Regions from separate parts of the Homo sapiens genome. Here region 1 is linked to region 2. The links come from fine-mapping of genetic effects on gene expression. A gene starts in region 2. The other region holds a variant in brackets. All regions are shown on one strand. Distances are from middle to middle.

Region 1 (4,264 bases), 120 kb after region 2:
GAGTTCAAGACCAGCCTGACCAACATGCCGAAACCCTGTCTCTACTAAAATTACAAAAATTAGCCACAGGTGTGGTGGCACATGCTTGGAATCCCAGCTCCTTGGGAGGCTGAGACACTAGAATCGCTTGAACCCAGGAGTCAGAGGTTGCAGTGAGCTGAGATCTCGCCACTGCACTCCAGCCTAGGCAACAGAGTGAGAAAAAAAAAATTGCAGTTTGGTGCCCAACTTAACGTAACCTGTTAGTAAATGATTTCAGATCTTATTTTCACCAGAGGAAAGAGATAGGGTTGTGGGCTCCTAGGCTAAAGTGGCTAAGTGGGCAGCTGAGCAGAGGTCAGTATATTGTTATTTGGAATACATTTAAGGATTAAGGATGTTAGGTTGAAAAAGAGTCTTTATGACATCAGTCTGTGTGGCAAACCTTTCTCCCACTCCTACTTCTTTGAAGTTATTGGGAATCATTTGCTCTATTGTTTTCTCTTTTACATTCTGTAAGCATTTCAGGATTTTCAAGAGAAAAACATTTGTTAAAATAACAGTAAAAACATAAATAGGAGAAAATAATCAGGATGTGGGGAACATTTTATTATTTTAGAGGAATAAAACTACCAGCTTCTCAAGCACTTATCTTTAATGTAAATTTCTTTAGAGAAATTTCAGGTAGGCAACTTCGAAGAGTCAGACACATGCATCCATAACAACAGTCCTGTAGTCATCCCTTAAGGAAAGCCACAGCATGACCATAAAATATAGTTCAGTGCAGGGATTCAGGTAGCCTTCTGTTTGTTGCAAGGTTAGAGTTTAATGTGCCTACAAGGAGTTTCTTAGGTGGGCTTTTGTCCTCTTGTGGAGATTTTACTCTGGTGAAGACTGAAAGGCAGGTGTTCTGAAAATCTTTAGGGGAAGGCTGTGTATGTTCTAGAAACCAAACCAAAATGTGGGAAGGAGGATGAACAACTGAGATTTTTGCTTGTTAGGTCACTTCAGGTTAGGCAAAGTTGTGTTTTTTTCCCCCCACAAGAAACACTTTTTTTCAAAGCTATTCCAGCAAATGAATAGATAGTTTTTTGTTTTTTTTCTTTTTTTTTTTGAGACGGAGTCTTGCTCTGTCACCCAGGCTGAAGTGCAGTGGCGCAATCTCGGCTCACTGCAAGCTCTGCCTCCCAGGTTCACGCCATTCTCCTGCCTCAGCCTCCCAAGTAGCTGGGATTACAGGCACCCGCCACCGTGCCCAGCTAATTTTTTGTATTTTCAGTAGAGACAGGGTTTCACTGTGTTAGCCAGGATGGTCTCGATCTCCTGACCTCGTGATCTGCCCGCCTCAGTCTCCCAATGTGCTGGGATTACAGGCGTGAGCCACCGCTCCCGGCCATGAATAGATAGTGTATGAAAACCACTGGGCACCATACCACTAAGATGAGACAGCTTTAATCTGGAAACCTGTCACTGCTATTATGTAATCTCTATATTGCTCTCATATAATACCTCTTTTTGAGCCACATGGATTCCAGTGAACCCTCCAAGAATGAATTAGTTACAAGAATGTGCCCCTAATTATAAAACAAACTATAAAGACAAATTATCCTGCTGTAGTAGGACATTTGAAATAAATCATTTATATTTTGAAGGACGTCTGCCCATTATGTTTATTTGCATATAAAGGAGCTACGTGCAGATAGGGTCTGTTCCTAGCTTCACTGGAGGAGGGCCTGTGGTCTTACAGGATATGAGTAGCTGTTTGAGCACTGTAACACTGGAAGAAGCAAGGCTTCTAGATGTGTGTTTGGGATATGTGTTTCTACTAAACCTTAAGTAAGGGCCATATCTTCGGTAATTTTGTCCCCAGATGTGTTGTTATCATTGATTATGATAGTCAGGTTCAAGGTGTCATGAAGGATTTGTTATATTTAAATGTTTAGTAGGTGATATAGAGATTTCATAAGATTACATTTTTTAAATGCTTGGATAGTTTCTTCTGTGAACTATTTCATGTCCTGTCTCAGCTTCACTTAAAATATTTTGTCAGGAACTGTCAGAGGACTTTTTATTAGATATTTCTGAGATAATATTAAAAGCATTCCAGGCCGGGCGTGTTTGCTCACACCTGTAATCCCAGCACTCTGGGAGGCCGAGGCAAGTGGATCACCTGAGGTCAGGAGTTCGAGACCAGCCTGGCCAACATGGTGAAACCTCGTTTCTACTAAAAATACAAAAAATTACCTGGGCGTGGTGGTGGGCACCTGTGATCCCAGCTACTCTGAAGGCTGAGGCAGGAGAATCGCTTGAACCCGGGAGGCAGAGGTTGCAGTGAGCCAAGATCATGCCATTGCACTTCAGCTGGGCAACAAGAGCAAAACTCCGTCTCAAAAAAAAAAAAAAAAAAAAAAGGCATTCCAGTATGAGTATTTGCTGGCAGGTAAGGAGAAATTACAGTAGCAGTGTTTTTTCTTTTT[T/C]TTTTTTTTTGATAAAGCTTTCTAGAGATTCTCTTTGTTTCTGTTCCACTAGTGACAGAGGCCAAGCAAGAATTAATAACCTACCCTCAGCCTCAGAAAACATCCATACCAGCACCATTGGAAAAACAGCCCAACCAGCCCCTAAGACCAGCTGATAAGGAACCTGAACCCAGGAAGAGGGAAGAAGGCCAAGAGTCACGCTTAGGACATCAAAAGAGAGAAGCAGAAAGGTATCTGCCTCCTTCTCGAAGGGAAGGGCCAACTTTCCGAAGAGACCGAGAGAGGGAGTCATGGTCTGGAGAGACACGCCAGGATGGAGAGAGCAAAAGTAAGTAGTTTGTCAGGGCACATACCAGACTGTGATCATCACAATGGAGCATAGATGGCCAATGTTATGTCCGGGAGCTATCTGCTTTCCAGTACCCTGAGAGATCTGTGCATGACCTGATGACAGAGGCCATTGCTGTCTGTGGACCTTCCTGTACTGCTTAAAGGAATCTATGCCCTTCAAATAGTAAATTGCTATATGAATGCAGTAAGGCATGATTTTAGATTTCTAAGTATTGGTGAAGAAAAGTATGCAGTATTTATTTGTTTAGCATTTTTTTACAGAACCAGCCTTGCTAGTAGCATCTATAGTAAAAAATGACAGTCAGATTCTTGGGACTTCAAAAATTTATCTTTCTCTCCCTTGTGTTGCCCTTCTCCCATTTATGGTTGATTCAGCTATCATGCTAAAGCGTATCTATCGTTCCACACCACCTGAGGTGATAGTGGAAGTGCTGGAGCCCTATGTCCGCCTTACTACTGCCAACGTCCGTATCATCAAGAACAGAACAGGCCCTATGGGGCATACCTATGGCTTTATTGACCTCGACTCCCATGCGGTGAGTTTCCTCCACCTTGGATTGGCCTAGAGACAGATGGCTAAAGAACCTTCAAGAAGGTTTGACTGGGGGCCGGGCCTGGTGGCTTACGCCTGTAATCCCAGCACTTTGGGAGGCCGAGGTGGGTGGATCACGAGGTCAGGAAATCAAGACCATCCTGGCTAACACGGTGAAACCCTGTCTCTACTAAAAAATACAGAAAAATTAGCTGGGCGTGGTGGCAGGCGCCTGTAGTCGCAGCTACTCGGGAGGCTGAGGCAGGAGAATGGCGTGAACTCCGGAGGCGGAGCTTGCAGTGAGCCGAGATCGCGCCACTGCACTTCAGCCTGGGTGACAGAGCGAGACTCTGTCTCAAAAAAAAAAAAAAAAAATTTGAGGGACTTCTTGATCATTTGAATTCTTGTGTGCTACCTGATATCATAATCCCTCTTGCTCTCTCCTTTGGGTTTATTGTTCATTCAGGTCAGGTGACAGCCCTCAAAAGTTAGGATCCCGTCTGGTTTTCTAGGTTCATTTTTTTCTTGTGTCATTTACTGTTTCCAACTTACTCGCTTGTGAAGAATCTGAGTACTGAATCCTTCATGATTTTAGTGAACTTTCTGATTTATTTTGTCCAGCCACAGATGGTTTTATATTTGATGATAAAACATTTCCTCTTTTTCCTCAAAGTATTTATAGATTCCTGTGGCTTAAATTTTTAGTTGCGGGGCCTTTTTCTATGGAAGTAAGGTGAAGATAATGAAAGTCATTGGTATTTCTTAGATTTTTCATGCTCAAAAGTCACAAGGGACTTTGTAAACTGAATCTGATTGATGATAATTGCAACCTAAAAGAAGAGGATTTGAATTTCTGAAGTTTATGCCAGAACTGACATCTATTCTGATTCCTGTTCCAATCAGTCCTTCATTAAAAGTTGCCTGT
Region 2 (4,264 bases):
CTTTTCTTTCTTTCTTTTTTTTCAGACGGAGTCTTGCTCTGTCGCCCAGGCTGGTGTGCAGTGGCGCAAATCTCGGCTCACTGCAAGCTCCGCCTCCCGGGTTCATGCCACTCTCCTGCCTCAGCCTCCCCAGTAGCTGGGACTACAGGCGGCTGCCGCCACGCTCGGCTAATTTTTTGTATTTTTAGTAGAGACAGGGTTTCACCGTGTTAGCCAGGATGGTCTCGATCTCCTGACTTCGTGATCCGCCCGCCGCGGCCTCCCAAAGTGCTGGGATTACAAGCGTGAGCCACTGCGCCCAACCTCTTTCTTTTTCTTTTTTGAGACGGAGTCTTGCTCTGTTGTGAGGCTGGAGTGCAGTGGCGCGATCTCGGCTCACGGCAACATCCGCCTCCCGGGTTCAAGCAATTCTCTGCCTCAGCCTCCTGAGTAGCTGAGATTACAGGCATGCGCCACCACGCCCGGGTAATTTTTGTATTTTTAGTAGAGACGGGGTTTCACCATCTTGGCCAGACTGGTCTTGAACTCCTGACCTCGTGATCCACCCGCCTCGGCCTCCCAAAGTGCTAGGATTACAAGCGTGAGGCACTGCGCCCGGCCTCTTTCTTTCTTTCCTTTTTTCTGAGACGGAGTCTTGCTCTATTGTCCAGGCTGGAGTGCAGTGACACAGTCTAGGCTCACTGCAATCTCTGCCTCCCGGGTTTAAGTGATTCTCCTGCCTCAGCCTCCCGAGTAGCTGGGATTACAGGCGCCTGCCACCAAGCCCGGGTAATTTTTTTTTTTTTTTGCGACAGTCTCCCTCTGTCGCCTAGGCTGGAGTGCAGTGGCGCTATCTCGACTCACTGCAAGCTCCGCCTCCCGGGTTCACGTCATTCTCCTGCCTCAGCCTCCTGAGTAGCTGGGACTACAGGTGCCCGCCACCACGCTCCACTAATTTTTTGTGTTTTTAGTAGAGACAGGGTTTCATCGTGTTAGCCAGGATGGTCTTGATCTCCTGACCTCGTGATCCACCCGCCTCGGCCTCCCACAGTGCTGGGATTACAGTCGTGAGCCACTGCGCCCAACTTCTTTCTTTCTTTCTTTCTTTTGAGACGGAGTCTTGCGCTGTTGCCAGGCAACAGTGCAGTGGCGCGATCTCGGCTCACTGCAACCTGTGCTTCCCGGGTTCAAGCAATTCTCTGCCTCAGCCTCCTGAGTAGCTGGGATTACAGGCATGCGCCACCACGCCTGGCTACTTTTTGTATTTTTAGTAGCGATGGGGTTTCACTATCTTGGCCAGGCTGGTCTTGAACTCCTGACCTCGTGATCCACCCACCTCGGCCTCCCAAAGTGCTAGGATTACAAGCATGAGCCACTGCGCCCGGCCTTTTTCTTTCTTTCTTTTTTTCTGAGGTGGAGTCTTGCTCTATTGTCCAGGCTGGAGTGCAGTGGCACAGTGTCGGCTCACTGCAACCTCTGCCTCTGCCTCCCGGGTTTAAGTGATTCTCCTGCCTCAGCCTCCCGAGTAGCTGGGATTACAGGCACCTGCCACCAAGCCCGGGTAATTTTTGTATTTTTGGTAGAGATGGGGTTTCACCATGTTGGCCAGGCTGGTCTAGAACTCCTGACCTCAGGTGGTCCACTCGCCGCGGCCTACCAAAGTGCTGGGATTACAGGCGTGAGCCACCGCGCCCCGCCAACCAGCTGGAGATGGCTTAAACTTACTCCCGAAGAAGCTCCCTTCCATTTCTCTCACACTAACGGACAATAAGGAGGCCTCGAGCTAGGCAGGCCAGGGCCGTACCCGAGCTGCTGGCAGGGAGCAAACCTCAGGAAAGTCAAGCCACCAAAAAACTGTAAGCCTCAATCAACTGAGAGGAAAGCACAAGAGGACCAGGTGTCACAGGGCAGAGGCCAAACCACAACTCCCAGCAGGTCACGCGGAGTAGGGCGGGTAAGCGCGCCTTCTTATTGGATGGCGATGGACAGCGTGCTCTTACGACCCACCCCAGAAGGCAAGTCCCCTGCGCGCGGGGCACGGCGGGAGTAAGAGTCTGCGGGACCGGCAGCTGTACTTCATCTCCCAGCGGGCCGAGCGCTGAAGGCAGCGGCGCGGCGCCTTTGTGGTAGCAGTGGCCCCGCGCGGAGGAAGTTCCGGTGTCCGCGGCGCTGGGTCGGTGGCGGAGGCTGAGGAGAAGGAGGAGCGGGCCGTGGAGGCTTCGCCGCCTAGGTAAGGGCCCGGGACTGGAGGGGAGGCGTGCCAGAGCCTGCCAGGGAATAGCCAGCAGACAGGCCCGCTCTAGACATCGCAGGCCCGCGCAGCCTGAAAGCTGTGGCTTCAGTGTCGCGGGGCGGCTGCGGCCTCGCTCGGGAAGAAGACCAAGCAACGGTGAGATGAGGGAGGCGCCGCCCGTGGCAGGAACGCCCCGGAACCGTCGCGGGCCTGGGGCGGGGCCCGGCGCGGCAGTAGATTACCGGTCCCGCCGCGGAGCGGCCAGCTGTGAGGCTGGGGCCGGCGCGTGGTTGCGGCTCTGTGCTCCTACTCTTCGGAGCTGTAAGCGGGCTGTTCTTGCGGTTTTCCTGTTTCAGATCCAATTCTGTGGCATCACTAGGAAGGGAGCTCTTGTGCTTAGCACGTAGCCTCGTCCTCAGACTTGGACAGACACAAGGGAGGCTCCGCTGGACCGGAGGGCACAAGAGCTCCGAGCCCGGTCGTCGGGGCGGTAGAACCTGGAAGCGGGAGAGTGGTCTGGTGGGTTCTGCGCCCGTTAGGCAATGAAGGAGAAGGATGTTTTATCGTATTCACGCTTTAGATTCCATTAGCGGTGTAAATAGATGTTTTTCTCTTTATTTTAGAATTGACGTTAGGCGAATGGGTTCAACTTTGGGAATGCCTTTTTTTTTTTTTTTTTTTTGAAGGAAGGGCCCTGTTTCGTAGGGTACATAAACCGTGAGCGTAATTGTATTTTTTGCATATTCCAGGTTTGCTTGTGAAGGTCAGAGTAGCCGGATTTAAGTGAAGGAGTTCAGTAGACATGCAGACATGGTCACCTGGTTCATTTTCTGAACCCTGGATTGTGCCCTCGGCTTGCTAGTTTCCACCTTCCTATTGAGAAATGCCACCAGCGTGAATGATTTAAATATGTCACCATTACTGAATTTGTGAGGTCTCTAACGAGAGGTGTCAAGAGCTGGTGCGTGATGGTAGGACTGGCAGTGAAGAAAGTAACTAAATAATATGTTACCATTTTGGTGAAACACAAAAGTTGAATTTGAACCTTGTCTCAGAAACTAGCATCTAACTAGATACCTAACCTGCAGGACAGGTCCCAGGTCTCTCTGGATAGTTGTAGCACCTTTCCTTATAGAATTCTATTACCAGGCCGAGCCTGGTGGCTCACACCTGTAATCCCAGCACTTTGGGAGGCTGAGGTGGGGAGTTCGAGACCAGCCTGACTAACATGGAGAAACCGCGTCTCTACTAAAAGTACAAAATTAGCCGGGCATGGTGGCACATGCCTGTAATCCCAGCTACTTGGGAGGCTGAGGCAGGAGAATCGCTTGAACCTGGGAGGCGGAGGTTGCGGTGAGCTGAGATTGCTCCATTGCACTCCAGCCTGGGCCACAAGAGTGAAACTCTGTCTCAAAAAAAAAAAAAAAAAAAAAAAAAAAAAACCCGCAAAACTCAACAAAAACCAACATAGTAGAGGCAGCGTTTCGCCTTATGCCCAGCTAATTTTTTGTATTTTTTTAGTAGAGGCGGAGTTTCGCTATGTTGGCCAGGCTGGTCTTGAACTACTGACCTCAGGTGATCCACCTGCCTTGGCCTCCCAAAGTGCTGGGATTACAGGCGTGAGCCACCGTGCCCGGCCCTGTTATAGTATTTCTAAAACAAATTGTGAGCCTGGGCAACATCGCAAAACCCTGTCTCTACAAAAAATACAAAAAAAAAAAATTAGCCAGGCGTGGTGGCATGCTCCTGTTAGCCCTAACTACTCAGGAGGCTGAGATGGAAAAATCGCTTGAGCCGGGGAGGTAGAGGTTGTAGTAAGGGGAGATAGTGCCACTGCACTCCAACCTGGGCCACAGAACAAGACTGTCTCAAAAAAAAAAAAATCAATTAAATAAATTGTGGTAAATATATATTTTTATGTATGTTTATGTATATTTTAACAAAATTTGCTCTTTAAACCATTGTTAAGTATACAATTCAGCCAGGCACGGTGGCTCACGCCTGTAATCCCAGCACTTTGGGACGCCGAGGTGGGCGGATCACGAGGTCAGG

What was found. PIP is the estimated chance that this variant, and not a neighbour inherited with it, causes the effect. A credible set is the group of variants that fine-mapping cannot tell apart.
Region 1: its variant is the best candidate, but not a certain one, in a credible set for the expression of RBM6 in blood mononuclear cells (TOPMed, PIP 0.68).

The regions. Positions count from the first base shown.
Region 1 is chr3:50,055,220-50,059,483 of GRCh38, forward strand. RBM6 (RNA binding motif protein 6) reads left to right here. Exons shown (of 21, transcript NM_005777.3): 9 at 2,509-2,784; 10 at 3,183-3,343. Among named protein-coding and RNA genes, the nearest start is that of RBM5, 32 kb to the right of the region's middle. The variant T/C (reference allele first, on the strand shown) is at 2,457.
Region 2 is chr3:49,938,017-49,942,280 of GRCh38, forward strand. RBM6 (RNA binding motif protein 6) reads left to right here and starts at 2,134. Exons shown (of 21, transcript NM_005777.3): 1 at 2,134-2,209. RefSeq lists enhancers at 1,764-2,286, 1,995-2,054, 2,085-2,134, 2,165-2,224, 2,287-2,808 and a silencer at 2,365-2,564.